Regions from separate parts of the Homo sapiens genome. Here region 1 is linked to region 2. The links come from fine-mapping of genetic effects on gene expression. A gene starts in region 2. The other region holds a variant in brackets. All regions are shown on one strand. Distances are between the middles of the regions. Region 1 holds the start of ERFE (erythroferrone). Region 2 holds the start of ILKAP (ILK associated serine/threonine phosphatase).

Region 1 (13,071 bases), 45 kb after region 2:
GTGAAGAGCTCACTGCTGCTCTCCAGGCCCATGATGGCCTCCAGGGAGCTGTACCCAAAACAGAGGGAGGGTCAGCCTGCCCCATGAGACCCCACCAACTTCACCTACGACACACAATCCTGCCAGCAGCCAACACATGCCCAGCAAAGTGCCTGACCCTGGCCAGGTCTTCCAGTGGAGGTGGTGTCTGAACCGAGTCCCCAAGAGGAGGAAGGACACAGGGCCAGAGGCATGCTTGCTGTATTGGGAAAGGCAAGGCGAGGGCCCAGCAAGAGGCAGCAAAGCCCTGGCTCTGATGGGAAACAGGACACTGGCTGATGCAGCCGGAAGTGGGGATGTGGTGGCAGGTGATGCTAAGTTAGTTCAGGCCAACACACTCTGGGGGTTCAAAGGCAGACTAAGAAGTTTTGGACTTGATCCATTCATTCAAGTCTGCTCCAGCTATCCTACCCGCAGGGTATCTCCGCTGTACCTGGGCTCCCTTCTGGGTGTGGGGAGACAGGGAGCTCACAGTCACTGCACTCGTGGGCCAGATGGTGCAGGAGCAAGGGATGCGATCATGGGGAAGAAAGTTCCCGGGTGAGGAGTGGGAGGGCGACTGAGGAGGGGGCCTCCAGAAAGCTGTCTGGAGAGGCCTCTTGAAGTAACACTGGTGCTTCGAGCCCCAAGATGAAAGTCCCTGAGGTGGGAAGGAGTTGGGAGGCTAGGAGGAGCCCGGCCTCCTAGGACCTGGGGAGGAGGTGAAGGTCTGGGCAGGGAGTGGCCTGGAAAGGTTTTTTTTTGTTGTTGTTGTTTGTTTTTTTGAGACGGAGTCTCGCTCTGTTGCCCAGGCTGGAGTGCAGTGGCGCTATCTCTGCTCACTGCAAGCTCCGCCTCCCGGGTTCACGCCATTCTCCTGCCTCAGCCTCCCAAGTAGCTGGGATTACAGGCACCCACCACGCCCGGGTAATTTTTTGTATTTTTAGTAGAGACGGGGTTTCACCATGTTAGCCAGGATGGTCTCGATCTCCTGACCTCGTGATCCGCCCGCCTCGGCCTCCCAAAGTGCTGCGATTACAGGCGTGAGCCACCGCGCCCAGCTGGAAAGGTCATTTTTAACAGCTCCCAGTTGCTGTGAAGGGAAGGCCTGATAGGGGCAGAAGTAGACCGGGAGACCTGGAAGAAGGTGTGGGGTCACCTAGGCCACGGTGGGGTGTGAACGGGCGGAAGCCCCGTCCAGTGCCTGTTTAACCACCTCCAGCTTGTGGAGGCCGAGCGAATGCGGGTGTGGGGTCCGGGCCGGGGTACACTCACGCGTTGCGCTGGCACCGGGACTGGATGCAGATGAGCAGGCGCAGGTGGTCCCGGGGGCGCGGCGGCCCCCTCCTCGGCGGCTCCCCGAGCGCTGCGGGGGAGGGTGGGACGTGGTCAAGCGGGCGGGCGGCGGGGTGGGCGACAGAGCGGGCGATCCTCCCACGCCCCGGGCCTCACCCACGTGCAGCGTGGCGGCGAGAGCGTAGAAGCCAGCCACGGGCGCCCTGTACTGGCCGCTGGTCAAGTTCAGGCCCGGGCCGCGGCGGAAGGCACCCTCGGCGTCGGGCTGCGAGGGGCACGGATGGTCACCCCGGCTCCCGCCCGGCCGGACTCACCCGCCCTCCCGCGCGCCGGCACTCACCAGGTAGTAGACGCCAAGCTCGTGCAGCGCGCGCCGCTCCACCAACGCGTCCCGGCGCAGGCGGCAGAGGAAAGCGGCCTCCACGCGCGGCGCCCGCGGCCCCGGGGCCAGGGGCGCGGCCAGCAGTGCCAGCACGTCCCCCACCACGTCGTCGTCGTCCTCCCCGGCGGTGGCCGAGACCGGGGCGAGGCTCGCAGCGACCGGCCCGGCGGGGCCACACGTACAGGGTTCGGGCTCCGCGCGCTCCCGCTGCCGCACCGCACCTGGCACAGAGCGAGCGGTGGCCGCGCGCCAGGGACCCCTCACCCGCCCGCCGCGTGGGTCCAGCCCTGAACGACAGGTGCTAGCGAGACCAGGGGCCTGCCGGGCGCAGGGGTGGGGCGAGGGCGACGTCCCCTCGGCCTGAAGGGCCTCGGAGTCTTTGCGTCCTGACCCTGCAGCGGCTCCCGTTTCCCTCAAGATTTGGGAAGCTCGGGCAGAAGTGCCCCAGCGCCCTTGGCCTCCAGCCTCACCTCTACCCCACCCACATTTTCCAAAGACGCTGGGGGTAAAATAAGCGATTGCAGCTTTACTGGAAGTACAAGGAGGTTCTTCAGCGCAGAAGGTGCTATATTTAAACGAACAGGACATTGAACTAAAAGGAAAAAACGGCTCAATTCTAATGACTAATGTGAGCCGCCGCTCTGCAGGAGGCCTCAGTGTGGACTCCGCGGCTCCACTCAGCCCTGCCTCCTCCAGGGCAGGCTGCCCCAGCCCTGGCCAGTGGTGACTGTGGGTGCCAGGCTGAGCTCCACCTGGTGCTGCCCCATACACTAGCCTCTGCCTTTCGCTGGGCTCTCCTGACTTCCAGGCAGGGCATAGGCGCTGGTCCCTGAGCACCCGCCATACTGAGTGGCCAGGTCCACCTTCCTCTGTGAAGCCTTCTCCTGGCCATGGTTCCCAACCCCCAGCCATCCCCAGCCCTGACCCTTGGCAGACATGGGCCAAGATGGGGCAGAGACTGGACCTGGCCAGCTCTACTGTCCTTGAGTCCAGCCCAGAGCAGGTGCCTCCTTGGGTGCCCGCCGAAGTGTTGAGGTTGGCCCTGTCAGCTCCTCGGGACACCCTCCCAGGCCCTGCTCACAGCGGGGTGTGTGTGTCCCAGCCGGTGCACACCCCTACCTTTCAGCAGCAGCTGGAACTCCTTCAGCAGCGCCTCGGGTGGGATGATGGGGCCTGGGGGGCCCTGGGGACCGGGAGGCCCAGGGGGCCCTGGCAAGCCGAACTGAAAGGGAACCTTGGCAGTGAGGACATGTGAGGAGCAGGCTGGGAGCCACAGCATCCCCTGTGCAAGCTCTTGCCACTAAGAGGCAGGCAACAGAGCTCCCCAGTGGGCTCCAACCTCCAGCCAAGGATCTACCTCAGTGAAAGCTTCTCCTGGAGTGAGTACAAGGACTGTGCTGGAGGTGGGGGCCCTCGGGGCGGGGCTTTGGCAGGGAAGGACTCTGCTCTGAGTGGGGAGGCAGAGGGCTGAAGCCCGCTCCTGCGGCCAGGCCTCGTGGAGGGAAGAAGACTCTAGGCTGCTTTTGGGGACTTGCATCTCAGGGTCTGCACTGGGCCCGAGTCCACCATCAGCAGGTCCCCACTAGGCTGGGTTGGGACCCGAACCAGAAGCCAGTGAGCCCCCTGTGGGGAGAAGCTTAGGGCAGGGCCAGGAGGCTGGGCAGAGGTAGAAGGCCAGGCCACGAGGACAGCGCGGCCTGTGCACCTGCCTCATGCACTCCGAGCTGGCCTTCCATCGTGTGTTCAGATCCCAGGCAGGTGATACTGGCCCCCAGGGGACAGAGAAGCCCACACCCCGTATTTTCCATTTTGGGGGCTCCAAGCAGGAGGCAGCACCAGGACCAAGCACCAAGTTTCTGCCCAGGCCAAGACCTAAGGCTGAGTGAGGGTGAGAGGGACCCTGTGCCCCTAGTCCCTGGGAGCCAGGCACTCCTGCAGGCCCCTCCAGTGTGGACAAGGTTCTCACCACAGCCTGGGCTAGCCCAGCCTCCCTGGCCTGGATGCAGAGGGAGGAGAAAAGAGGGAGAGCCTGGCATTTTAGGGGTGTGGGGAAATGGTTGGGACCAGGCCCCTAACTCGGGGCTCCCCCTGGGGCTGCCTGGGTTCTCTCTGTTCTCTGTCCCCAGGCCGAGGCGTGAGGGGTGTGCTATTGGAAATGTTCAGGATGTAGGAGTGGGAGTGGATGAGGAGCGAGGAGGCGGAACCCCCCACGGCCTGGCACTGACGGGATGCCGGCCTCACCTTCAGCTTCTTGGCCTTGCCCCTGCTCCTCTTCTTGCCATTGACACCCTTGTCACTCTGCCTGACGAAGAGCATCCAGGCGTCCCGGGGGTCGACGCTGTGTGCACGCTCAGCGGTGGGCTCCTGGAACACAGCCAGCCCAGCAGGGCGGTTGGCCTCACTGGGCTCCTACCAAGCAGGTGGGACACTTTGCAGGAGGTGACTGTGTGGCCTTCTGTACTCTGGGACCCTGGTCCTTGTCACCTGTGGTGCCCTCAAAGGCAGCTCCCAAAGGGGCCCCAACCCCTCACAGCTTCTCCCCCGGCCCGTGGAGGATGACTCCTAGGGAACGGGCCACACCTCGGCCTGGACTTGGCACTCATGGGAGAGGCAGACCCAAGATGCCTGGAGGGAAAATGGGGTGCAGGGCTTGGATATCGGGGTGAATCCCCGTACTGCTGGGCCTCCTTCCTCCAGAGGAGCTGCAGTGATCACACCGTCCTCCAGTCACCAGGAGGATCCGACCACTGGAGCACCCATAGGTGCTCAGGAAGAAGCAACTGTGATTATCAGGGAGCCCAACTACTAGCCAACCCTCCTCTGTCCATCCTCCCCCAGTGTCAGAAGTTCTAAGGAGGCAAATTCAGCTCTCACAGCTGCCTCGGGTTACAGTCCAGTGGGGGAGAGGACCAGGCGAGCTGTCATGACGCGAGGCCTCTGTGTGAGACTTTCATTTCCTCAGCACTTCTGAGACACTGACACATGGACAGTGATGCTTCCGGAAGTTCCCATTCCTGTCCGCGCTGCATCCTGACTGATGCTGACACTGAGCACAGTTTTGGGAGGGACCTTCCTGGGAGAGGCCTTGGGCTATCTGGGCTCCAGGCAAGGCTGCCAGCTGGGAAGGAAACCGGCCCAAGAGGGCTTAGATGAGGTCATGGGTGCTGACGCTGGGGGCTGACGGAAGGACCCTGGGATTTTAGAGCTGACTGGGCCCTTTTATCAGAGACAAAGCCGGCTGCCAAGTCACTGCCTTTGGTTCCTGGCTGATCTGGGGGGATGCAGGGCCTTCTTTTGGGAGCTGGCTGACCAATGCGCAGGCCAGGGTGTTGTGGTGGGAAGATGGGGGCTGCGGTGCCGAGGAGCCTGTGGTTGGGCGGAGAAAGGGTTCAG[G/A]GGCCCAGGGCCCTCAGCGCTGCTCAGTGCTTCCTTGTGCCTTAGAGGGTCAACTGCACCACCTGCTGGCTGATCTCCCCTCTACCCCCTCCCAGGACCCTCTTCCACTTCCTGTGTGCCCTCCGTGGAAACATGGGGCGAGGATGCCGCACACCGGCCAGGAGGGGTGTGCCCAGCTGACCCTCCCAGCTGCACCTGTGGCCTGTGGCCGGACCCTGACCCCAGTGTGGTTTGCAGGTAGAGCTGTAACAGGCAGAAGGTGGCGTCCCAGGAGACGGCCCCAGCAATGGGGGTGGGTATTGGGCAGCTGCCCTGGTTCCAGCCACAAGGGGTCTCTCAGAAACAAGCCTTGGAGCCTGGGAGGACCTCTGGTGTCACTGTGTCCCCCACAAACAGGGTCCAAGGCCAAAACTCCACCTGGAAGCCCCTGAGCCCCGTCTGCCTCCTGCTGACAGTGCCCTGACATTTGGCTGCTGTGCCCACCTGGGTGGTTTGGCCAACTGCACGGGGAGGGGGTGCCTTCAGTCCCTGGGAAGTGGCTGGGTGTGATGGGGCCGGGATAGAGAACTCTGGGGGACCCCAGGCCTGGCTGCACCCCTGTCCTCTCTAGTAGATGCGTTCCTGGCTCTCCCCTCTACTGCCCCTGAGCATCTTCAGAATAAACAGCACCGGCCGCCCACCCCGGCTTCCCTGGGGCAGCCCTGTCTCCCTGACCCAAGGCCCGGCCACACTGAGGGCTCCTCTGAAGTTCTCCCCTCCTCAGGCCTGGGCCACACCTCCCCAACCGGACCACCCTCTGCTCAGCAGTCCAGGCTCCAAAACCCTGGAGAGGAGGGGGCAGGGCAGAGCTCAAGATCACCCACTCACGGCCAAAAGCCACCTGATCACTTGACTCAAAGCCACATGTCATTCCCCACCCTGCACAGCCCCCCGACCCCAGATCCGCAGGAAAACACTTTTTGTTTTCCAGATAATTGCACCAAATAGATTGGGGGCGGTGGCAGTAATTCGCTTACACTTTTTACAAATGCGTTCTTCCCAATTTCCTCAAATCAAGTTATTTACACTTTATCTATTTCCCAACTTCCTTCTGTCCCAAAAGAAAAGGGGGGTTTCGCCGACCTAGTAGAACCTTGCTTTAAGTCAAACTACCCCAAAGCCAAAGTCAAGGCTGCCCCGCCGGGCTGAGGGCGGCGTCTACACGGCCCTGAGTCTCTGCGGAGCCCCGGAGCCCCGGTGCCAGGCGATGCAGCAGCCCTCGGGGGTGAGGGCGGGCTCGGCCTCCACGTCCGCCTCCCGCCGCCCCGAGCCGGGGCGTGCGGGCGCGGGCTGGGTCTGGAGCGGGCCCGGGCGTCTTACCGGCGGACGAGCGGCCGGCCCCGCGCGGCTCTCCCCGGGGCCCCGGGGCAGCTCGTTCCCGGGCGGCGGCTCCCTGCGGGCGCGGCTCCTCGAGGGCGCCCCAGGCTCCGGGGACCCCAGGCCCGCGGCGGCGGCGGCCAGCAGGCCCGCGTAGACGAGCAGCAGGCGGGCTCCGGCGGGGCGGCGGGCCGGGGCCATGCGGGCGGCGGTTCCCTCGCGGCTCCGAGCGCGGCGTCTCGGACGCCCCGGGCTCCTCGCCTTATAACGCGCTTGAATCCCCCGCCTCGCCCGAGACCGCGCGCCCGCCCGCGCCCCCTCCCGGCTCCCGTGCGCGCTGCATGGGGATGGGGGGAGTGTCCGGGCGGGGGAGGGGGAGTGGGGGAGGGGGCACGGGGAGCGGGGCAGGGCAGGGAGAGCGAGGGGTGTTCCCCTGCTGGGCGCGTCCCCCCTGCAACTCCTGGTTCTGGGATCCCTCCTTCGCGCTGTCCAGCGCTTCTGCTTCCTGGGGAGCGAGGCGCCCCTTCTCCCAGCCCTGGACCCTCGGCCCTCGCGACCCCATTTTCTTTGCGGGGAGCCAGGCGCTGCCTCCTCCCAGACGGCTCGAGGCATCCTTTCTCCCCGCTCTGTCCCCCACGTCCTCTGCAGGGACCCCCGAGGTACCCCCTCCCCATTCTCCTGGCTGCGCCCCGCAAGGCCCAGGCCTCTATGACACAGGTGGAGCAAATCTGAGCCGGGAGACCCTCAGGGCCCCTTCTCAGCGCCCCTTTCCCAGGCGGGAACTCCCCTTTCCAGGCCGCCCTCCGTCCATGGCTGGCGTGCTCTGAGCGCAGGGATTCACTGTTCTTCCCCACCTGTCGCACCTGCCGGGACCCAGAAGACGCAGGGAGCCAAGAAACAACTCAGGACAGCCGCCCTGCCCTGGTGGGGCTGAGCGGGGCCTGGGCTGGGAGAACTGACCCCTATCGTGCCCTAGCGGGGGTGTGGGGGCAGACCAGACCGGAAGCCAGGCTGCCCACCGCCCACCGGAATCAGTGCCCCCAGAGGTGGACCAGACCCTGCAGGCCTCGGAGAAGGTGGCAGAGAGGCCTCTGGGCGGCCCTACCAGGAAAGAGCCAGCCCCAGCCCCACCCTACCCCTGGCTTTGTTATATCGCATGCCCTTTTGACTATCTGCCCCACCACTGGACGCTAAGCCGAGGAGGGTCGCACACTTGGCTCGCTTGCCCCACCCCCGAGGCACCTGCCCCTGGTGGGTACACAGTGCTTTTTGTTAAAGAACGGGAGAAGGCTCCGCTGGAAAAGTACCTTACACTCACACCGAGGGCTGCTGTTCCCGGGGAACTCTTTTGAGAAGAGCCCGCTGGGGAAAGGAGGCCTTACCCTGTCCTGGTTCACAGGATGTGGCAGCAGGGACTGAAAGGGGCACCAGCAGCCGCAGGTGGTGCCCCCCAGGCTTGGGGATGGGCCAAGTTCCGTCCTCAGATGCAAGCTGGCCTTTGTCGCCTGCCTTTTCTGGCCACTCATGCGATGTTCCACCTGGCTGGCCTCATGCCTGGCAGGTGGGGAAACCAGGAAATACTTCATACTTTAGGAAAAGCATGGGATCAGAAGGTAATTATTCCCTGTGATTCCACCCCTTTTCCCATAGGATATGGGAATGGTGTAGAGTTGGGTGGGGAGGACGTTTAAAGAAAAACATACCCTGCCCAGCATGAGAATCTGCCCGGCAGGGGTAAGTCCCATGGACTTACTCTGTGAAGATGTCTTTCAATGGCAGGTGAGGACACAAGAGGGAAGTCCTGCCTTTAAAAGCCACAAATGGGCCAGACACGGTGGCTCACGCCTGTAATCCCAGCACTTTGGGAGGCCGAGGCAGGTGGATCACCTGAGGTCAGGAGTTCGAGACCAGCCTGACCAACATGGTGAAATCCCGTCTCTACTAAAACTACAAAAATTAGCCGGGTGTGGTGGCGAGCGCCTGTCATCCCAGCTACTCAGGAGGCTGAGGCAGGAGAATTGCTTGAACCTGGGAGATGCAGGTTGCAGTGAGCCGAGATCACACCACTGCACTCCAGCCTGGGTGACAGAGCGAGACTCCGTCTCAACAAAAAGCCACAAATGATTTTTTTTTTTAAAAAGACCAATACAATGAAAACATTTGAATTCCTATAAAACATGCAAGTCTTTAAGACACATTTGAGAAATATGAGAAACACTGGCTTAGGTCATATGTGCCCAGCAAGATATCTGAACTTATTTCACCTGCAAACATTCTGCAGGTTTGTCACAATTAAGGACATTTGCTCCCAAAATCACGCATATGAGGGAGATGTCTTAAGGCCCTCAGAGAGTGAAGGGTTTCTCTGGTGGGTTTTCATGTCTGGTTCTATTGGAATGTCTGTTAAGAAGCCTGATGTGTGGAACTTTGTCATGACATGTCTGAATGTGACATGCACATTCGGTGTAATGTGTTAACATTTCATTCGGTTTCACTTATTCAGAGGGACTGTATCTGTGGACCACAGGACCCTGGCGTGCCATGTTCTCCTGTACTCTGCTGGTAGAGAGGGGCTCCTGTCCCCAGGAGTTGCAGCTGTGTGAATGGCACCTTCTTGCTTCTGGAGAAGCTCATCCACACCAGCACCTCATTTGATTCCCCACCAATTAGCCCAGAGAGGTGGGCGGCTTGCCCAGGACGCAGCCCATGGGCAGAGCCGGCGTGGGGCTGCAGAGGCCCTCCTGCCCACTGGACAGGTTACATCTTCACGGCCTTATGTTTGGCTTGTTAGGGTTCCTCCTATTCTAGTTGGTGTGAAATAAGAGGTGCGTGATGAGTTGGAGCATTACTGCAGAAAACATAGCCCCATCTTTTCCCTGTGAGGAATGGGCATCCCACAGGTCTGAATTCCCTCTGGGGCCCTGGCTGCAGCTATGGCTCAAGGTGGATGCTGTTTGGCCCCACCCGAGCCCTGGGAAGGTGATGCTCAGGCTCTGCCACCGTCGGCAACACTGAGGATACGCAGGGATGAGGTGCCCTGATTTGGGGAACATTACCCTTAAGATACTAGTGTGATGTCATTCCACTTCGCAGTGGGGGGCCCCAGCTTTCAGGCCAGCATTGAGGACAGGAGCCGTTGCCATGTGAAAAAGTTATTTTCCCAAACAATGAACAATCCTCATGATGTCATGGGCCCTGCCAGAGGCCCAAATCCAATCGGTTCTGGTGCTGGGGCAGCCTCCTGTAACACTATCCTGAGAGGATGACTCCGCCTGGGTTGGGGACAGAGAGCAGAGAGGCCGGGGGTCTTCAGGTGGGGCCCCTGCATGTGTCTGCGTTCACATTTCAAAGTGGCTTTCACTCAGAGGAAGGTGGAGCTTAGCAAAGAATTGCGCAGATCAAGGAGCAGCAGAAATGGGGGCCTCCCCCTGCAGGAGCAGCCCATGGGTCAGAAGTGGGGCTGGCATCGGGGTGAGCCAGGACATCCCAGGATGGAAGAACTAAATGAATGGCCACAGAACGGGGATCACTGGAGCAGGAAGTGGCCTCCCCCATGCGCCTTCACGCCTGGCTGAAATCTAATCCTCATTCTTGGGCCCTCATGTCACGGCCCGGGCCTGGCTTCCCAGCAGCCTGATGCAGCCAAGCTGTTCCCACTCTTCTCTCTTCCTCCAGAGGAAGGACCTTTGCCGATGAAGTCATGGGAATAAAACCTCCCTCTGCCCTGAAAACAGTGGGACCGTGAAGTCAGCTTGTTGTGTGGCCTCCAGAGGCCCAGGCGGGTAGCCTTCGCTGTTTACTGGGCCTTGCAAGCCCACGACGTCATCTAATTTGCAAATCGTGTGATTATCCCCATTGCACAGATGAGGAAACTGAGGCTCAGATCTTGGGATTGGCCCAAGGTCACAGAGCCAATAAATGAAACCACATCCAGGTCTGGCCCCTACAACTTGAGGTCAGTTGCTCTGGAGAACCTACAGATTTAGTTCAGTTCAGTGAGCATTTGTGCAGTTGTGCAGTTCCCATGACGTGCCGGCACCAGGCCGAGCACTCGGAATACATTGTGGCCTCCTGCATGGGTGTGTGGGCAGTCTCGGGTCTCTCGGGAGACAATTCTTTCTCACTCCTGCCCAGAGGGTCTCTTGAGTTTTCTGCTAATTGTCTACATGTTTTTAATAGATTAATTAAAATAATCATCTTTAGCTCTCCTCTCAGTTGAATGCAATGCCATTTTGGAAAGAATCACATTCTTAAATGTGACTGTGATCAAAATCGTCTTGGCTTCTGAGGGAGTCATGATGTCTCCTGGGGTTTGTTCCAAACAGGATACTTCCCCCATGGAGATTCCTGTCCTAGTCTACCTCAGTCTCAGTGACAGCCACACACCTGGCTGCCCTGCCACGTACCTGGTGCTGCAGAGTCCGGGAGAAGCAGCCACACTTCAGACCGATCAGCTGATACCACGCCGGGCACTGGGGAGGGACGGTGAATGACACGGCCCCGGAGGTGCAGCATCTTTCCTGTGTACGTGGCTGTGCCCTCTCTCCTTAAGCCATTGGCACATTCTCCATCCATACACATGCTTTCAGCTGGATCAACTGATGGCCCAACCAACTGGAGTAGTGGCCTGTATCCTTCTGTTTTCTTGCTATAAAGGAAAATGTGAGGCTGGGTAATTTACAAAGAAAAGAGGTTTATTTGGCTCACAGTTCTGCAGGATGTACAGGAAGCATAGTGCCAGCATCTGCTTCTGGTGAGGCCTCAGGAAGCTTCCACTCACGGTGGCAGGGGAAGGGGAGCAGGTGTGTCACACAGTGAGGGAGCAAGGGAGAGCAGGGGAGGTGTCAGGCTCTTTAACGATCAGCTCTCCGTGAACGCACCAGCGTTACTGCACCATGCCATGCCTGAGGGATCCGCCCCCATGATCTAAACGCCTCCCACCAGGCCCAACTCCAACACCAGCGATCAGACTCAACAGACTCAACATGAGATTCGGAGGGGACAGATCTCCAAGCTATGTCATGGTCTATACTGACTATGGAAAACTGTCAGGTGACCAGTCCATTTAATTACAGTCACATGAGGGTGTCAATGGCCTGATCCCAGCAACCACTGTCCCTGCCTGAATAGAGAAGATGCCAGATAATAAAAGGGGCCTGTCTGTGAGGTGTTGGAAAACTCAAGTCCGGTGGAAGTGGCTGGAAGCATGCCTAGGCCCCAGCTTACTTGGGGACCCGGGGGAGCTGAGATACAGTTGGCAGTGCTGGGCCTGGCTGAGGGCCCTGTGTGCTCACTGAAGGCTGAGGGGCCTCAGTTTACCCAGCATCCTCTATGGGAAAGACAACACGCACCTACCTGGAGGACATGAGCACATGGGGCCTGGAGGTGGGTTTCGCCCGCACACCCCTGTGGGCATTTGCACATGTTCCAAGGCTACGCGCTCCCCTTTCTAGAAGCCCATATTAGCCTCAAGCCTTCTAATGAGTCCTTGCTGTCCTGGATTTTGATGATGGAAGGGGATACCTTGGCTGCCCTATGGCTGTCGCTTGGTGAGTGAGTGCATTAATGTCCCTTCGTGCAAAGCTCTCAAGTGGGTGACGTGTGCCGGACCTTCTGGCCGCCGTCCTGGTGCCCTGGCCACCTTCTCCACCTGTTCTGTGTCCCCAGGTGGCCACTACAGCCTGTCAATGGCCTCTCTTCCCTCTGGGTTCTGGTTGGGCTTGGCCTGTAGGAGGCGCTAGTGGGAGACAGGGGGCAGGCCAGAGAGAGAGGGCAGATGGACTCTGCCACCTCCTCCCAGCTGGACAACAGGGGTGGTGGCTGCGTTCCCCCGCCAAGGCCCTCTCTCAGCAGCTCCCTGGAGTCTGCGTCTGCCCTTTCCCTTCTCCCAAGACGGGGTGGGGGGGGTGGCACTCCCACTGCTGCTGTCCTGGGATGCCTCTCCAGCCACTGGGCTCCCTTCACCCTGCCCACAGCATGGGGAGAGGCCGTCGTGAAACTCTCCTTAGCCACTCACCTCAATACCCAGCAGACGCCCCTTTCCTCCTGGTGCCCTGAAGGCTGCGATGGCCCCCTGAATCAGGAGCCCAGCTGATCGGACGAGGTGCACTTTGGCACCTCAAAGCTGGGAGCCAGGCCCTGGAGAGGCCCACTCCTTCCACCCGAGGACCGCCCATATTCCCATAGGGTGTGCAAGGGTGGACAGCAGGCGTTGCTCTGGCACGCCGCCCTTTTGGCTACTTTGTGATCAAAGCCAGCCTATTTTGACATTTCATGTCTTCAGTTTTATTTTTATTTATTTTAAAATATTCTTGCAGAAATGGTTTACATGGAGGCTTTGTTTTTAAACAGCCCTTTGGCTGACCTCCTTCCATCACTGTCTAGAAAACATTTCAGATTTCCACATGGAAACAGAGCCCAGGGCCCCAGAAACCCTCACCCTTGCTTCATCCAATCCATCTGCCACCGAAGGTCTCCTCAGCTCTGGGCTCTTGTTCCTTTGGTAGCACCCAGAGGCCCCACTCTGTCTGGCCCTCCAGGGTCAACTCACTTCTCCCACACCTTGTAATCCCAGCACTTTGGGAGGCTGAGGCGGGCGGATCACCTGAGGTCAGGAGTTCAAGACC
Region 2 (15,786 bases):
ACGCCACTGCACTCTAGCCTGGGCAACAGAGTGAGACTCTGTCTCAAAAAAAAAAAAAAAAAGAAAGAAAAAAAAGAAAAAGTTAAATTACACAAGAGCCCCAGGAAAATCCTGCCCTCTTCTTATCACGCCTCACTGAAGCTATGCTAAAATATACCAATTTGGACCCAGAATCTAGAGAAGGTCAAACTTTTTCTACCTCCAATTTATTTCCCAGATATCCAGAAAAAAAATTACAAAAACTAGAGGGTCCCCAGACATCTCGGTGGGACCTCCTAAATGCAGCCTTCTGTGTCTTTAACAACAGAGATGAGGAACCAAAAATTCAAAAAGACAAGCATCTCCATTTAAAATACCAGATGCTCACCTCTGCTGTCCAAAAGTCAATCACACAAAAGCCTCCCGATAACCCAAAAGGAAACTCTGCCACCTTTTTGGGAGTCTGTTTCCGATGTGGCAACCCTGGACACTGGGCAAAGGCTTGTCCTAACCCCCAGCCCTCCACCAAGCCATGCTCAACTTGTGGTCTTTGGGGACACTGGAAAATGGACTGCCCCCAATGGGGACACCTTCCCCATTCGGTGTGGCTCATAATGAAGTCCCCCAGCCATCCACAGGAGGAAATCTCTTCACTGCTGGTGCTGACAGCAGAGGACTGAAGGTACCCAGGATTCTTTGCCCCCATGTCTAGTGAGTCCACAGAACCCAGAGGGTAATTGGGACTGTATCTGGTAAGATTATTTCCTTTCTTTTGGATACTGGGGCTAGCCTATTGGTATTAACTGACTATCAAGGCCCGTTAGAACGTTCATCCATTTCTGTGTTGGTATGAAGGGCATACAAGAAACCCCATATAAAACACCGCCTCTATACTGCTCATTTCAGGGAGTCATCCTCACTCACTCTATTTTGGTCATTCCTCACTGTCCCACTCCCTTATTAGGAAGGGATATTCTACACAAACAGGGGGAATCATTCATTTATCGGCCCTACACCAAAGACACCCTTATTTATTATTATGTCAAGAACAGAAGCCCTCCTCAGACACTCCACATCAAACAGACTTAAATCTCAAATTTCTCAGCCATGTAAACCCCATCATATGGAACGCTGACTTCCCCATAATAGCTACCCACCATTCTCCAACCCAAATTTCATTGAAGAATCCTAAGCACTATATAGTGTTTCCAACATTGTCCCCTCAACCCTGATGGATTGCAGGGACTCAAGCCCATCATATCCTGATTTTGGGTGCCAGTATTTTAATCCCCACCCATTCTCCCCACAATACTCCTATTCTTCCAGTTAAAAAACCAGACAGCTCCTATAGACTGGTCCAGGATTTGTGACAAATCAACTCCGCTATTATTCCTGTTTGTCCCGTTGTCCCAAACCCCTACACCCTCCTATCACGAATTCCTCCCAACACTAGCCACTCCTCTGTATTAGACCTCAAAGATGCCTTTCTTACTATCCCTGTACATCCCTTCTCTCAAAACCTTTTTGCTTTCACTTGGGCTGATCCTGACACAGGCTACTCCCAACAACTCGCCTGGACTGTCCTCCCCCAGGGGTTTAGGGACAGCCCTCACTATTTCGGTCAGGCACTTCAATTAGACCTCTCCCAACTACCTCTACAACCCAGCATTTTGCTTCAATATGTGGATTTACTCTTTTGCACCCCCTCCCTAGAATACTGTATTCAACACATCACCAAGCTTTTACATTTTTTGGCTGAATGTGGGTACTGGGTATCCAAAAGAAAAGTTCAAAAATTTCATACCCAGGACTTATCATAACTCCAAATTCTGTCAGCACGAAAGCAAGGTGTTCAACAAATCCCATTTCCTAAAACAAAAAGGGACTTACTTTCCTTCTTCGGATTAGTGGGATATTTCCAAATATGGATAGCAAATTTTGCCATTGTTGCTATATCCCTTTATGAACACACAAAAGAAAATCTTGACCAACTCCTCACTCCCACCCCAGATCTTTATCATGCTTTCTCTCACCTAAAACGTGTGTTATTACAGGCCCCCACTTTAGGCCTTCCAAACCCCCTAAGACCTTTTAATCTGTATTTACACAGTTCTCATAATCAGGCCCTTGGTCTATTAGCCCAACTCATGGCAAACTCCCTCCAACCAGTGGTATATTTTCAAAACAACTAGACCCCATTTATAAAACCTGGCCCCCTTGCTTAAACATTTTGGTCACAACAGCAGCAATAATTATTCCTGAGGCACAAAATCTCATGTTTTATGAACCTCTTCAGGTATTTTCTTCTCACAGTCTACAAGATATGCTCAGCCACAAGGTGCTCACCTCCAGCTCATCCTCTCGCAGGCAAGCCCTACTTTCAACTCTCCTTCAACCCTCTATATCTCTTCATAGATGCTCCCTGACTAACCCCGCCACTCTTTACCTTCAACACCAATTTTAGACCCCGACCAACACTCATGCTCTGATCTAACTGGAAGTTCTCTATGTATCACCGCCTTACTTGCACTCACATAAAAGGAGACCCAGATTGGTTTATAGATGGGAGCACATCAAAACACTCTCCCCTCTAAGCAGGATATGCCATCATTGAAAGGATATCATGATGATACCCACTCTCTCCCACCTAGAAAGCCATAGAGGCTGCCCCCTTGCCTTTGGGCACATCCTCCCAACAAGCAGAATTAGTTGCCCTAATAAGAGCACTAACTCTAGCAGAAAACACACAAGTGAATATATACACTGATTCTAAATATGCCTGTAACGTTATCCATTCCAATGCCCAAATTTTGAGTGAGCAGGGCTATCTCATAGCTAAGGGAACCCCTATCATTAATGGAAAACTCATCCATCATCTATTAAAGGCAGCTATACTTCCAGAAAAGGTTGTGGTTATCCATTGCAAAGGACATCAATCAGACAAAAGCCACATTCCTTTAGGGAACCATGAGGCTGACTATTGGGCCAAACACGCCTCAGCCAACGACCCAATTCCCCAATACTTATTTCCCCTCACACAACATATGCCCTCCTTTTATCCAGAACACCAAACACAACAACCAATCACAGTAGGGGCAGACAATTTAAACCCCCATACTGGTTCATACAAAACAAATTAGTCCTACTTGACCCTGAAAAAACAATTTCTTCTATGGGACATTCACAACCTCTTCCACACTAGCCATTCCCCTCTACAGCATTTCTTAAGTTCCCATATATACATAACCCCAGACATAAAGGAACAGTTAAAAGCCATTTCCCATCAATGCTCTGTTTGCAAAAAAGCTTCACCCCACTTCAACACTAGACCCTCTTCTTTTCTAACCCATCAATCCAAGGGACACCTTCCAGAACAGGACTGGCAAATTGGTTTTACCCACATGCCCCCAGTAAAAAGGGTTTGATTTCTTTTAGTTCTGGTTGATACCTTTTTGGTACGGGTCGAGGCCTTTCCCACAACCAACAAACGAGCTCCTACTCTCCAAATTAATAACAGAAATCATCCCCAGGTTCGGGGTGCCTCTTTCTTTTCAATCTGATAATGGCCCTGAATTCATTTCTCAAATTATTCAAACACTTGCACAAGCCCTACAAATCACCTGGAAGTTGCACCTCCCCTCTCGACCTCAATCTTCAGGAAAGGTTGAAGAAATGAATGGCATTCTACAAAAACACCCTCACCAGGTACTCACACCAAACACATAAAGACTGGGTTACACTTTTGCCTTTAGCCCTTCTAAAAATTCGGGTGCTCCAATGTAAACTTCTAACGCTCAGCACCTTTGAACTCATGTATGGGAGACCATTTGCCCCTCTGCTCCACCTCAGGGTCAAGCCCCACCTCCACCAATCCCTCTCATTTCCCCTCTTGTACATACCATCTGCCATTTCATTTAGGAATATGCTGACAAATACCTGCCACAACCCATCACCGACTCCTTTAATCCCTCCCTACAGCCAGGAGACTGGGTTCTGGTAAAATACCCCAGTCCTACCCTCAATTCCTGCTTCACACCTAAGTGGAAGGGACCTTACCAGATCATCCTTACCACACCCACAGCACCGAAACTCCAGGGACTCCCCAGCTGGTTTCATTGTACTTCTCTCAAGAAAACAGACTTCCCTTCACCACATACCCAAACAACCAAGTCTGAAACCCCTTCGGCCTTCTCTCGTGTCTCCCAGGACCCACTTCTCTTCGCCTCACCCAAATCCCTGAGGAAAAGGAGGAGAAATCCACATAAGCCGCTTATGTCTCTTTCTCTCCCAAACTTTCATCACTTCCTAACTAACCTTGTTACAGACCTTCAGTGGTGCCCTTAGGAAGCTCCCATTATACATCCTGATCAGCTCGTTACTGCTCTATGGGACCTATGGCTTCAAGGAACTTTCCAGGACTTTACTCCTACCCAAATAACTTTTTTCGCTTTTTGCTTGTTTCTTTCAATATAAATTCCCTAATCACATCAACCTCATCAATACAACCACTCCTCACTGCTCTCAAACTAGAACGCTCTATAAACCTTACACAATCTCTCTTGCGGCAAGCTAACTCTTCCTTTGCTCTGGAATGCTGGGTGTGTTTATCGCTGTCTTCCTTAGCTTACACAGCCCTTCCTACATTCCTTCATGACCTTTTAACAGGAAACACAACCCTAATTTATAAACTCCAAAAAGGAGCTTCCTTTTTTGAAAGAGCTGACACTCTAGTCGGTGATTATCCCACTTCCAGGGCCGATCAGGCCAACAAATTATTTCAAACCTAGGATAACTCCCTACAGCGCCTTAAGCCCCACGGCCCTCCCATTGAAGGGCCCATAACTAAACACACTCCTCCTCTTATAATGAGCCTCACTTTGCTTTTCAGCCTCGGAGGGAAATTTCCCTGTAGGGTCCTTAACATCTAACCTATGCAACCACACTATCATTGTTAAACACCCCTCTGACCATCAAACTAACCAGGCTAACTACCAAGTATCACCTGAAGCGAACGGAGCATTTCTGCAGCTGGCTCGTTTGACAGCCTTTCCCTCAGCCAATGCCTCCAGCCTAACCTGTGCTGCTCCTAGTGCCCACAATTTTCCTTGGCTCAATATCAATAGTGCAGCATCCGACCGCATTAAATCTGTAAAAAATAACTCTTCCTATACCTCTAGTATAGTAGGTGTCTCCCAGGCCTCCTCCTTGTCCACCTGGAGTAATGAACCACAGGAAAGAACAAACACCTCATCTTTAATTCACTTATTTTCTGTCCATATCTCTGCTTGTATTTACAATAAAGGCTTGTTCTTTTTGTGTGGTCTCAACACATATTTCTTTGTCTCCCCATCAACCAGACCAGAACCTGTACCCTAGTTTATCTTTCTCCCTCCATTGGACTAGTTCCTCCTAATCAATCTTTACCCGTTCCATCCATCCAATATGTTAGGAAGAGGAGAGCCATCCACGTCATTCCTTTAATGGCTGCCTTAGGTATAACCTCCGGGCTTGGGTTGGGAGCAGGCTGATTCGCCACCTGCTTAACATACTTGAAATCTCTTTCAACAGAACTGCAGAGTTCATTAGAGCATATGGCCCAAAGCCTTATAAGAGTCCAAGGCCAACTAGACTCCTTGGCTGGAGTAGACTCCTTGGCTGGAGTAGTCCTCCAAAATAGACAGGAATTAGATGTTATAACAACTGAAAGAGGGGACCTCTGCCTCTCATTCGGTAAAAAATGTTGCTTCTATCTCAATCAGTTGGGCCTAGTAAGAGACGCTGCTAAAAAACTTAAAGAAAGGGCTAAAAAGCTAAGAGAATAACAAGACAACCAAATAAATTACTGGTTTAAAAACAAAGTCCTAATATGGGTCATCCCATTCCTGGGCTCTCTCCTAAAAATATGCCTAGGAATAATGTTCTTACCCTGCTTAATTAACCTTTTTCTAAGTTTTTTTTATTTTTTTGAGACGGAGTCTTGCTCAGTCGCCCAGGCTGGAGTGCAGTGGCGAGATCTCGGCTCACTGCAAGCTCCGCCTCCTGGGTTCACACCATTCTCCTGCCTCAGCCTCCCAAGTAGCTGGGACTACAGGCACCCGCCACCATGCCTGGCTATTTTTTTTTTTTTTTTGTATTTTTAGTAGAGACGGGGTTTCACCATGTTAGCCAGGATGGTCTCGATCTCCTGACCTCGTGACCCACCCGCCTTGGCCTCCCAAAGTGCTGGGATTACACGCGTGAGCCACCGCGCCTGGCCACCTTTTTCAAAGATTTTTAACCAGCAGGATCATGGCCATCTCACAGACAATTACCCAAAAACATCTACAGACAGCGTTACTCCTACAATCAATCTGAAACCAAAGAACTCTCTGCTCACTCCCCCAGCAGGAAGTAGCCAGAAAAAATGCGCTGCCCCTTGTCCTTTTCATAACTATAGAGACTGGATTGATAGAGCAGGAGCATTGCCATCTTGGACAAACACCACCTTTCTAAGTTCCCCTTGATTAAAAAACCACCTAAATCCTACCCCAAAACATCAGCCTAACGGCTAATGTCAGCATAACCAGAAATATTCCAACCCTAAGATAAACCTCTCTTCAACCAGAAACATGCTAACCCTGAAATAACCTCTCCTCCAATAGCCTCCCCTCCGACCAGAGACATTCCAACCCTGCAATAAACGTTCCCCCACTTCCAAAACCCTTAAATATCCTTAGTCTGTAAGAGAGAATGCTTAGTCTGTAAGAGAGAGCGCTCCTGATCGAAATTGGCCAGAATCCCCTCTCAGGTTTATTCTCTGAAATAAACCTTTTAATGTTGAGCCGCTTTTTGTATTTATTTCCTCTTTCTTTAACGGTTACAAGCATTGTTACTTGAGTGTTTCTGCTGTAATGGAGGAGGCAGCATGAATATCTCAAACGGTTGCTAGTGAGAAGCCACGCAGATGAGAGGCATGAAGCCTTGTTGGGCTCCCTCCATGTCCTACAGCCAGAGAGCGTCAGAAATACATCTGCCCCAGAATGAACTGGGCTGAAAACTCTTTGCATGGAGGGAGACCACATAACCTGGGGAACTTGGGTAAACGATGTTGGAACGGAGGTGTAAGATTTGGGTTTGTGTTAGTTGATTTGGGGAAACATTTATGGAAACGGGCCTTTGCTCCGGATTGGATGTCAGGAAGAGGAGGATTCCATGATTGGATATCTTGATGAAGCTTATCTAGACGGCAGGAGGACGAGACAAAGGCTAAACATGTAATGGTAAAGAAGCAGCAATCACTCTTATTGGCCAAGACGAGGGGAATGTGGTCACTTTTGTGGCTTGGACAGTGTTCCTGTTTTGTCTGTGTTCACACTTGATTACACAGTGGTCTGTTTTTTTCTCTTGATCTGTATCACGGCCTGATGTTGGTGTTTTATGAAATTGTTCACATTCAAAGAGAACACCCAGGCCTAGCTGTTTGTGCCAGACCAACCCCAAGTCCTGGCTGCAGAACCAGGCCAGCTCCCCGATGTCAGTGGCCGCCTTTCTCTTTACAGGCATGGAGGGGGACACCATTAAGGAGGAGCCCCTCTTCTCCGCTCCCCACAGACACCAGTGGGTGCAGACAAGTCAGGGAATGCCTCCTTTCCCTCCGGCATCTTTTGAGGTTTCCGTCCTGACGCCCAGGGCCGCTCCATCCAAGCCTCGGTTTCTCAGTCTCTAAAACAGGCCAGAAACCAGGCACGCCGTGGTGAAAGGACGAGCCGAAGAGATGGCAAGAGCTCCAGAAAGCCTTCCCAGGCATCAGGGGCTGCCCTTGAGCTCAGACGTTTCTCTCTGGACAGGGCTTCTTGGACAGGAACTCAACGAAACTTGACAGAAATCGGACACCCCCAGCCAAGGAAAAGCAGGAGGGGCCCGGGGTTCGCCAAGGCGGGAAACACCGCGGGGCCCAGACGGCGCCGTCCGCCCGGCTCGCAGTCGGGGCGCGGGAGGGGCCCACGCGCATGCGCACCGCCCCGCCCCCAGCCGCCCCGCCCAGCCCGCGCGCAGCCCTCTGGGGCGGCCGGGCCACGCCGCGCGCCGATTGGTGGCGTCCGGGACTCTCCCTGCAGGTGACTGACGGCGCCGGCCGCCCCTGCCCGTCGCCCGCCCGCTGCTGCCGCCCGCCCGGGGTGTGGAGCCCGGCCGCTGCTCGCGGGCTGAGTGTCTGTCGCTGCTGCCGCCTCCACCCAGCCTCCGCCATGGACCTCTTCGGGGACCTGCCGGAGCCCGAGCGCTCGCCGCGCCCGGCTGCCGGTAAGCGGCGTTGCCGCCGGGCCGGCCAGGGAAGGGAGAGCAGGCGGGATGGGGGCGGCCTGAGGCCCGGGGCGGCTGAGGCGGCGCCCGCGCTGGGAGGCGGCGGGCGGCGCGGGCTGCACGGGGCCTGCTCCTGCCTGGCCAGGCCCCGTCCGGCCCACTGGCGGCCCTGTCGGAGGCCCGGTCGCTCGCGGAGCTCGGAGAGGCCGCTCCGCCATTTTCGCTACGCAGGAAGGAAAGGGCCGAGCCGTCGTGGCCACGGCCCCTCTGCGTGGCGGTGAAAGGCGCCGGCGCGACCGCGTGGGCCGACCCGAGGGACCGGCTCTGAACGCCCGGCGGCACCGCGGGCCCCCGCGCCCCGATTCCACCCGCGGCCTGGGCTGCCTTGCGCGTCGCCCGCCCGCGGCTTCCGGGCCGCACTTCACCCGCGGGCTGTGGAACGGCCGCGTTCCGGGCCGGTGCAAGTTCAGGGGCTTGGCGTTTTTATTTGCACTGGAGATTGAATTAATCACCATCTTAATCCTTCGTGTTTTTGAAGCCTGGAAGACAGGATGCCTCCTCTGTCATCCTGTGATTTTGTGATAATTAACAGTAGTTTTTTTTTTTTTTTTCTGGTCCACGGGAAGTTCCCCCTCTCCTTGAAGTTAAGGGGTCCGCTCATCTCCTAAGCGCTGGCCCCTGCCAGTGGGAGTCCCTGTGGGCTGTGGTTTGAGCTCAGCATCCTAGCAGCTTGAAACAGGGCCTGTGTTAATCCCTGCGTCCTGTGGGTTACAGTCTCCGGGTTTCATCTGTCAAAACGCGTGAATATTTCATATGCAAGACTTCCAGCTTGATGTTGTAGTTTAGGGCCTTATTACAAAATTTAACTTGGGGGCAGAAAACCTGGAAAACTTAAGACGTTCAGATTTCCAGGCCCACCTCAGCCCCAGTAAATCCGAATCCCTGAGAGTGGGGTTTCCGAATCTGTTACTAAATCCCCAGGCCAACCCAGCGGGGGCTGGAGACCAGTGGTTTGGGAGCTGCTGTTGTAGGGTAGACGGAGGTGAGTAAGGCCCAGCCTTCGCTTTCTAAGAGCTGCTTTCTGAAGGGTACTAATTACGGTAATTAAAACTGGCAAAAGTTAATGACTGTGGGAAATGCTGAGGACTCTTGAGGAGGGATTGTCGGGCACCGAGAGACTGGGGAAGGAGGCAGTGTTTGAATTGAGCTTCCAAGGATGTTCAGGCTTGTGATTTGCAGTAATTCTGGGCGAGAAAACATTTTATTTTATTTTACTTTTTGAGACGGAGTCTCACTCTTGTCGCCCAGGCTGGAGTGCAATGGTGAGATCTGAGCTCACTGCAACCTCCGGGTTCAAACAATTCTCCTGCCTAGGCCTCCCTACTAGCTGAGATTACAGGCGCCGACCACCACACCCGGCTAATTTTTATATTTTTAGTAGAGACGGGGTTTCACCATGTTGGGTAGGGTGGTCTTGAACTCCTGACCTCAGGTGATCCGCCCGCCTCGGCCTCCCAAATTGCTGGGATTACAGGTGTGAGCCACCGTGCCCTGCCCCCACTGACCGTTCTGATGGTACAGAGCATCTCAGTAACTGGTCCTGGAGTCTTTGAACTTGACTCAGCCATTCATTTTCAAAATAACCACGGTTTTAGCTGTGGGTAAAAATTGGATTTGTGTAGCAGTCTTTTTTCTCTTGTCAATGGAGTATAATTTCTATCTGAATATATTTGGGACAGCATTTGGATTCACCAGTGTGCGTGTAAACCTATGAGTCTTAAAATCTCCATTGCTTTTTACCTGCAATTAATTAGGTTCTGCTCAGGAGCAGGCTCCCTTGACTGACAAAAAACCTGGCAACTCAGAATCTCATAGGTTGGCACCTTAGCAGCCTTTTGCCAGATACAGTGGGAAAGGTACATCCTGTTGCCGTTTTTTCCAAACTCAGTTTCCAACCTTGACTGAGCTGAAAGGGTGGCAGAGGGGGTGCATGGTGTTTAAACTGCTGACCACCCTGAGATTGGATTGGTCAGCTGCTCCCCATCTGCCAGGAGGGCACTGACATTGTCAACAGGTCCTGCTTGGCTGAGTGTATTTTTAAAAATAGCTTTAAAACGAAGAAGATCTCAGAATTTGTAGATGATTGGAAGCTGAGAGGGATAAGTACTAAAATGAGTGACAATTGGGATCCATAGTTATCATTGCAGGCTGTTAGCTACAACCAACAAGATGAGATTTGACAGGTTAAAATCGTTTGTACAAGAACAGAATCTGGTTTCACATACTTGTGAAAATACTGTGATTTAAAAAAAAAAAACATACTTTGAATAAATCATATTGATTGCTAAAGTGAATGGAATAATGAGTCTAAACTGTGCATCATGACCCTCACACATGATATGTGGGTACCACAAATCTCTAATGCAGTGAACAATAAAAGACCTCGTTATTTTCCCAGAGCGCAAGAAAAGTTGTTCAGAAAGTGTAACCAGACTACTTGGTTTAGAATCCAGCTCTTCGCTTACTAACTGTGCCTTCTGTGGCTATTCCTACATGTGTAAAAAGGGGTGACACTTGCCACTGTTACTGTACAAATTAGTACAGTATGTATGGTGCTGCACATAGTGTGGGGTAGAATGTATAGTGTTTTATAGATGTTAGCCAGGGTTATTATTTTTGAGACAGCCTCATTGTGTCGCCCAGGCTGGAGTGCAGTGACATAAACACAGCTCACTGCAGTCTCGACCTCCGTGGGCACAGGTGATTCTTCCACCTCAGCCTCCTTGGTAGCTGGGACTACAGGTGCGCACCACCACAGCCAGCTAATTTTTGTATGTTTTGTAGAGACAAGGCTTTGCCATGTTGCCCAGGCTGCTCTCGAACTCCTGGGGCTCAAGTGTTCTGCCCACCTTGGCCCTCCCAGAGTGCTGGGATTACAGTGGTAAGCCACTGTGCCTGGCTGAGCCATTAACAGTTGTTTAAAAGTGGAAAAACGCAGTCTTAAATGAATTATGGGAAAGCACTGAGTGTCCAAAGGGAGAATACTACACTGCTTATATCACATCAAATGTATTAATATTTTGTTTAGATCTTTTTATTTTTGTTTTAAACGTTGCATCTAATGTTCCCACCCCTAAACCTCTTAAATGTTTATAATCTAGAAAAATACATAGAATGCACTAAATATTTCAGGTATTTTGCTAAATTAGTAGTTTTCATCCAAGCCCTTAAAAGTTTTAATTGCTGAATGAATCAAGTTTTTTAAAGGAGAGATGTATATATTTTACCTAAAAAAAAGTGTTTGTTCATATCAGGCAGAAATGGAACTTTCCTATGTCATACCCATAAAAGTGCCGACCTGATGTCTTTAAGATTGGCAGCTTATATTGACAATCCATGTATGTCAGTTGAAGGTGTCATGGTTTAAAATTGCTTCGCCAGTAACTTGATTTCACTTTTATAGGGTGGTTCTTTTACTTATTTGGTTGCTACACTAGTACTTTAAAAATTGATGGTCAGTTGTTGAGGAGGAAATAAAATATTTGATGGCCACACCATCTTAAAAATACTTTAAAAAAATTGGAGGCTGGGCTCGATGGCGCATACTTGTAATCCCAGCGCTTTGGGGGAACAAGGCAGGAGGATGGCTTGAGGCCAGGAATTTGAGAAGAGCCTGGCACAACTTCGTGAGACCCCTGTCTCTACGATTAAAAAAAAAAAAGAAGAATATTTGAACATAAAGGTTAAGGTATTAGAGGAAAACAGATTGTAAAACTACAGGGTTGAACAAGAAAAAAGTCATAAAAAAGTGAATTTGACTATGTAAAAATTTAAAATTTCTGCAGGACAAATGATACTATAAAGGCAAAAGACAAACCGAGAAAATAATTGCAATATACATTACTAAGGGTATAAGAAAGGCTCACAGAATTGATGGGAAAAAATAAAACCCACTAGAAAAATGGTCAAAGGATGTATCCTCCCAGTTCAGAGGTAAGGAATACAAATGGCCCATCAACAGAAAGTTGCTGAGGAACTATTTACCTTTTCACCCATCAGATTAGCAACAGTTGGTAACATTGGTGAATGTGTAGCGAAGTAGACTTTCTCATAAAGTGTTTTGGGAGTGAAAATTACAACTTTTTGGGGAACAGATTTTGGCTTCTATCAGATTTAAACTAATATCCTTTGACGAGCAGTCTAGCAGATTAAGCAGGAATACATGTATCAGATTGTTGATTGTGGCGTCACTTATCATATGAAGAACTGGGAAAAGCTTGAACCCATCAGTAAGGATCTGGTCGAATGAGTGGAGATGCTTCCCATGTGTGGCTGTTGGAGAGGATGAATTAGACTTGGGTGTGTTGGCCTGGAGCATGCCTTGATGGGTTATGTGAACACTATATGTGGAGTATTGTGTAGAGTATGACTCTGTCTTCTACAAATTAAAATGCATGAGTCCATGTGCATGAGCATTAAGGAAAGTGGAAAGGATACACTAAACTCATACTGTGGTTGGGGGGTGTGGCGGAACCTGTCCCCCCTTTTTTCTGATAATACCTCTGTGGTGTTTGGAAAACACCTGGATTTATTTTATAGTTGAAAAAATTGAGGTATAAAAAACAATTTAGCCAAAATATTTTAACATCCTTTTTTAACTTTATTGGATACAGCAACCTTTAACCTGAATATGATCAACCCAAGGGTATTTTTCTCAGCATAGTATATAACTTCCAGTAGACTTAGCTCCAGAATGTAGATAACTGAGGAAAAAAAAAAGTTCTAGATGAGATTAACTATGATTAATGGACATTTTTAGTCTTGTATTCTTATTAGGGTTCTAATATTTTTAAGATTAGGGGAGGGGCCTCTTCCAGATTTTTAGGTCAGGGTCACACTTTGTCCAATGATTGCAGCCCCCAATGCTTTGAATTTCAGTTTATTCAAAATAGAATGTAAGGGCCTGGAGCAGTGGGTCACATCTGTAATCCCAGCACTTTGGGATGCTGAGGCAGGAAGATTGCTTGAGTACAGTAGTTCGTGACCAACCTGGGCAACATAGTGAGACCCCGTCTCTACAAAAAGTTAAAAAATTAGCTGGGCATGGTGGTGTATGCCTGTAGTTTCAGCTACTCGGGAATCTGACGAGGGAGGATTGCTTGAGCCCAGAAGGTTGGGGCTGCAGTGAGCTGTGATCACACCACTGCACTCCAACCTGGCTCACAGAGCGAGACTCTTGTCTCAATTTAAAAAAAAAAAAATCTAAGGTTTTGACTAATCAGTAGTTTCCTTATGTATCTATGACCTATAGATTTTTTTTTAAAGAATCCACATACAGACTTCTAAGTTAGATTCTTTTGATGATGCAAAAATTATTTCCAGAGATTTTATAAAATCTCAGGATTATCATCATAGGATTGTTGTAAGGGTAAAATGAGTTGATGTTTATGAAGTTTCTGGAAGGGTGCCCATGTATGGAGGCAGCATAGTACCTCACTAAAAGCACGGACTGCATGGCTTTGAATCCCCACTCCACTCCTTACTGGCTCTGTGATCTTGAACAGGTAATTGACCTCAGTGCCTCAGTTTTTTCATCGGTAAATAATAATAGTACCTATCTCATAAGAATTAAATGAGAAGATGTGTGGAGCTCTTAGAATAGTGCCTGACAGGCAGGCAGTATTATCATTTTTAGAAGCCATTCCCAGTTGTGGCCAGCAAAATGTAGGATGGTCTCATTGTGTTTAATTGAAATACCTCTCATAGTATTCCAGAGTGAGAAAGAAGGTGATAGGCAGTTCTCTGGGGATGGGGCTCAGTTTGGGGCACCATCTGACTGAATTGTAGCCAGAGGAGAGGCGGCCAGGCTAGTATTAATACTAAGCTGTAAGTTGCATTGTGAGGAATGCTTACAAGAACTGAAAATATATTTATTACCTGGGTAAAAGAAGACTTCCTCCCTTGTACAGTGGCAGTGGAAAGACCTGATTTAGATGGGCAAGTTAATTCAAAAGTTAAAATATGACCTGGTACAAGCGGAAGGGTTGTTTGCTCTTCATGTTGGGCTGTTACCTGTAAATGTCCCCTCCCTTGTCCTAAGACATCTGGCTCTGTGACACCACTGAATGCAGCGTGATTGTCTGGAACATCTCATGTGGTTTTTGAGTCTGTCCGGAGAACGGGCGTTGTGATTGTTAGACCCAATGTTTGGGCAAAAGTGACCTACTTCGGGATATTAGGAATTCTTGTAAGTGGATTAATACATTGAGTAATGGTTATCCTAAATACTTTTTTTGGGTGCTGGGGACAGAGTCTGGTTTTGTCCCCCAGGCTGGAGTGCAGTGGCGCTATCTCAGCTCACCGCAACCTCCGCCTCCCAGGTTCAAGCAGTTTTCCTGCTTCAGCCTCCCAAGTAGCTGGGGCTACAGGCACCCGCCACCATGCCTAGCTAATTTTTGTATTTCTGGAGAGACAGGGTTTCACCATGTTGGTCAGGCTCATCTTGAACTGCTGACCTCAGTCCTGACCTTGACCTCCCAAAGTGCTGGGATTATAGGTGTGAGCCACCACACCTGGCCATACTAAATACTTTTTAATGGCTTTCTTCTGCTTCTTGTATACTTCTAATAGAGTCTTTATGTCACTTGTAAGAAAAGTGAAAGTATTTGCAATTCCTTAATTTGTTTAGGGTCATCCTGAAGGATTAGAATACATTTTCCCATTTGTATTAGGGATATAAAGCAAAATAGTTATTTTTTGTTAACTCAGGAATTTCTTGTGTATTTTAGGTACTTCTGACGCAAAGACCCCGGGAGAAATTTCATTCCCTTAAGTTTATAAATTTTTAATTAAAGCTTTTGTTTTTAAAAGAAGAAAGTTGATACCCAGCTCATTTCTAAATGGAGGCAAAAAGATGATAGGGATGACCCTCTTGGGGGATATAAATTTATTTGTTTAGTTGAATTGGTGTTTGGCCTGGCACAATAGCTCATACCTGTAATCCCAGCACTTTGGGAGGCTGAGGCGGGTGGACCACTTGAGGCCAGGAGTTTGAGACCAACCTGGCCAACATGGTGAAACCCCGTCTCTACTAAAAATACAAAAATTAGACCAGACATGGTGGCTCACCCCTGTAATCCCAGCGCTTTGGGAGGCTGAGGCAGGCAGAACACTTGAGGTCAGGAGTTCAAGACTAGCCTGGTCAATATGGTGAGACCATGTCTCTACTAAAAATACAAAAATTATTTGGGCATGGTGGTGTGCGCCTGTGATCTCACCTACTCAGGAGGCTGGGGCAGGAGAATAGCTTGAACCCGGGAGGTGGAGGCAGTGAGCGAAGATCACATTACTGCACTCCAGCCTGGGCAACAGAGTGAGACTCAGTCTCAAAAAAAAAAAAAAAAAAAAAAAAAGTGAATTGGTTTTTAAGTGAGTACTTTTTTTTTTTTTTTTTTTGTGACAGAGTCTCACTGTGTTGCCTAGGCTGGAGTGCAGTGGCCCAATCATGGCTCACTGAAGCCTTGGCCT

Evidence for each region. PIP is the estimated chance that this variant, and not a neighbour inherited with it, causes the effect.
Region 1: its variant is fine-mapped to the expression of ILKAP in whole blood (INTERVAL, PIP 0.98).

What each region holds. Positions count from the first base shown.
Region 1 is chr2:238,152,583-238,165,653 of GRCh38, reverse strand. ERFE (erythroferrone) reads right to left here and starts at 6,684. Exons shown (of 8, transcript NM_001291832.2): 1 at 6,449-6,684; 2 at 3,938-4,060; 3 at 2,816-2,918; 4 at 1,655-1,917; 5 at 1,471-1,579; 6 at 1,294-1,384; 7 at 1-48. The coding sequence starts at 6,646. KLHL30 (kelch like family member 30) reads right to left here. Exons shown (of 8, transcript NM_198582.4): 8 at 12,707-13,071. RefSeq lists enhancers at 1,996-2,496, 11,873-12,372 and a silencer at 6,637-6,706. The variant G/A (reference allele first, on the strand shown) is at 5,090.
Region 2 is chr2:238,195,972-238,211,757 of GRCh38, reverse strand. ILKAP (ILK associated serine/threonine phosphatase) reads left to right here and starts at 8,063. Exons shown (of 12, transcript NM_030768.3): 1 at 8,063-8,259. The coding sequence starts at 8,205. RefSeq lists enhancers at 7,182-8,054, 9,017-9,076 and silencers at 7,867-8,436, 8,557-8,646.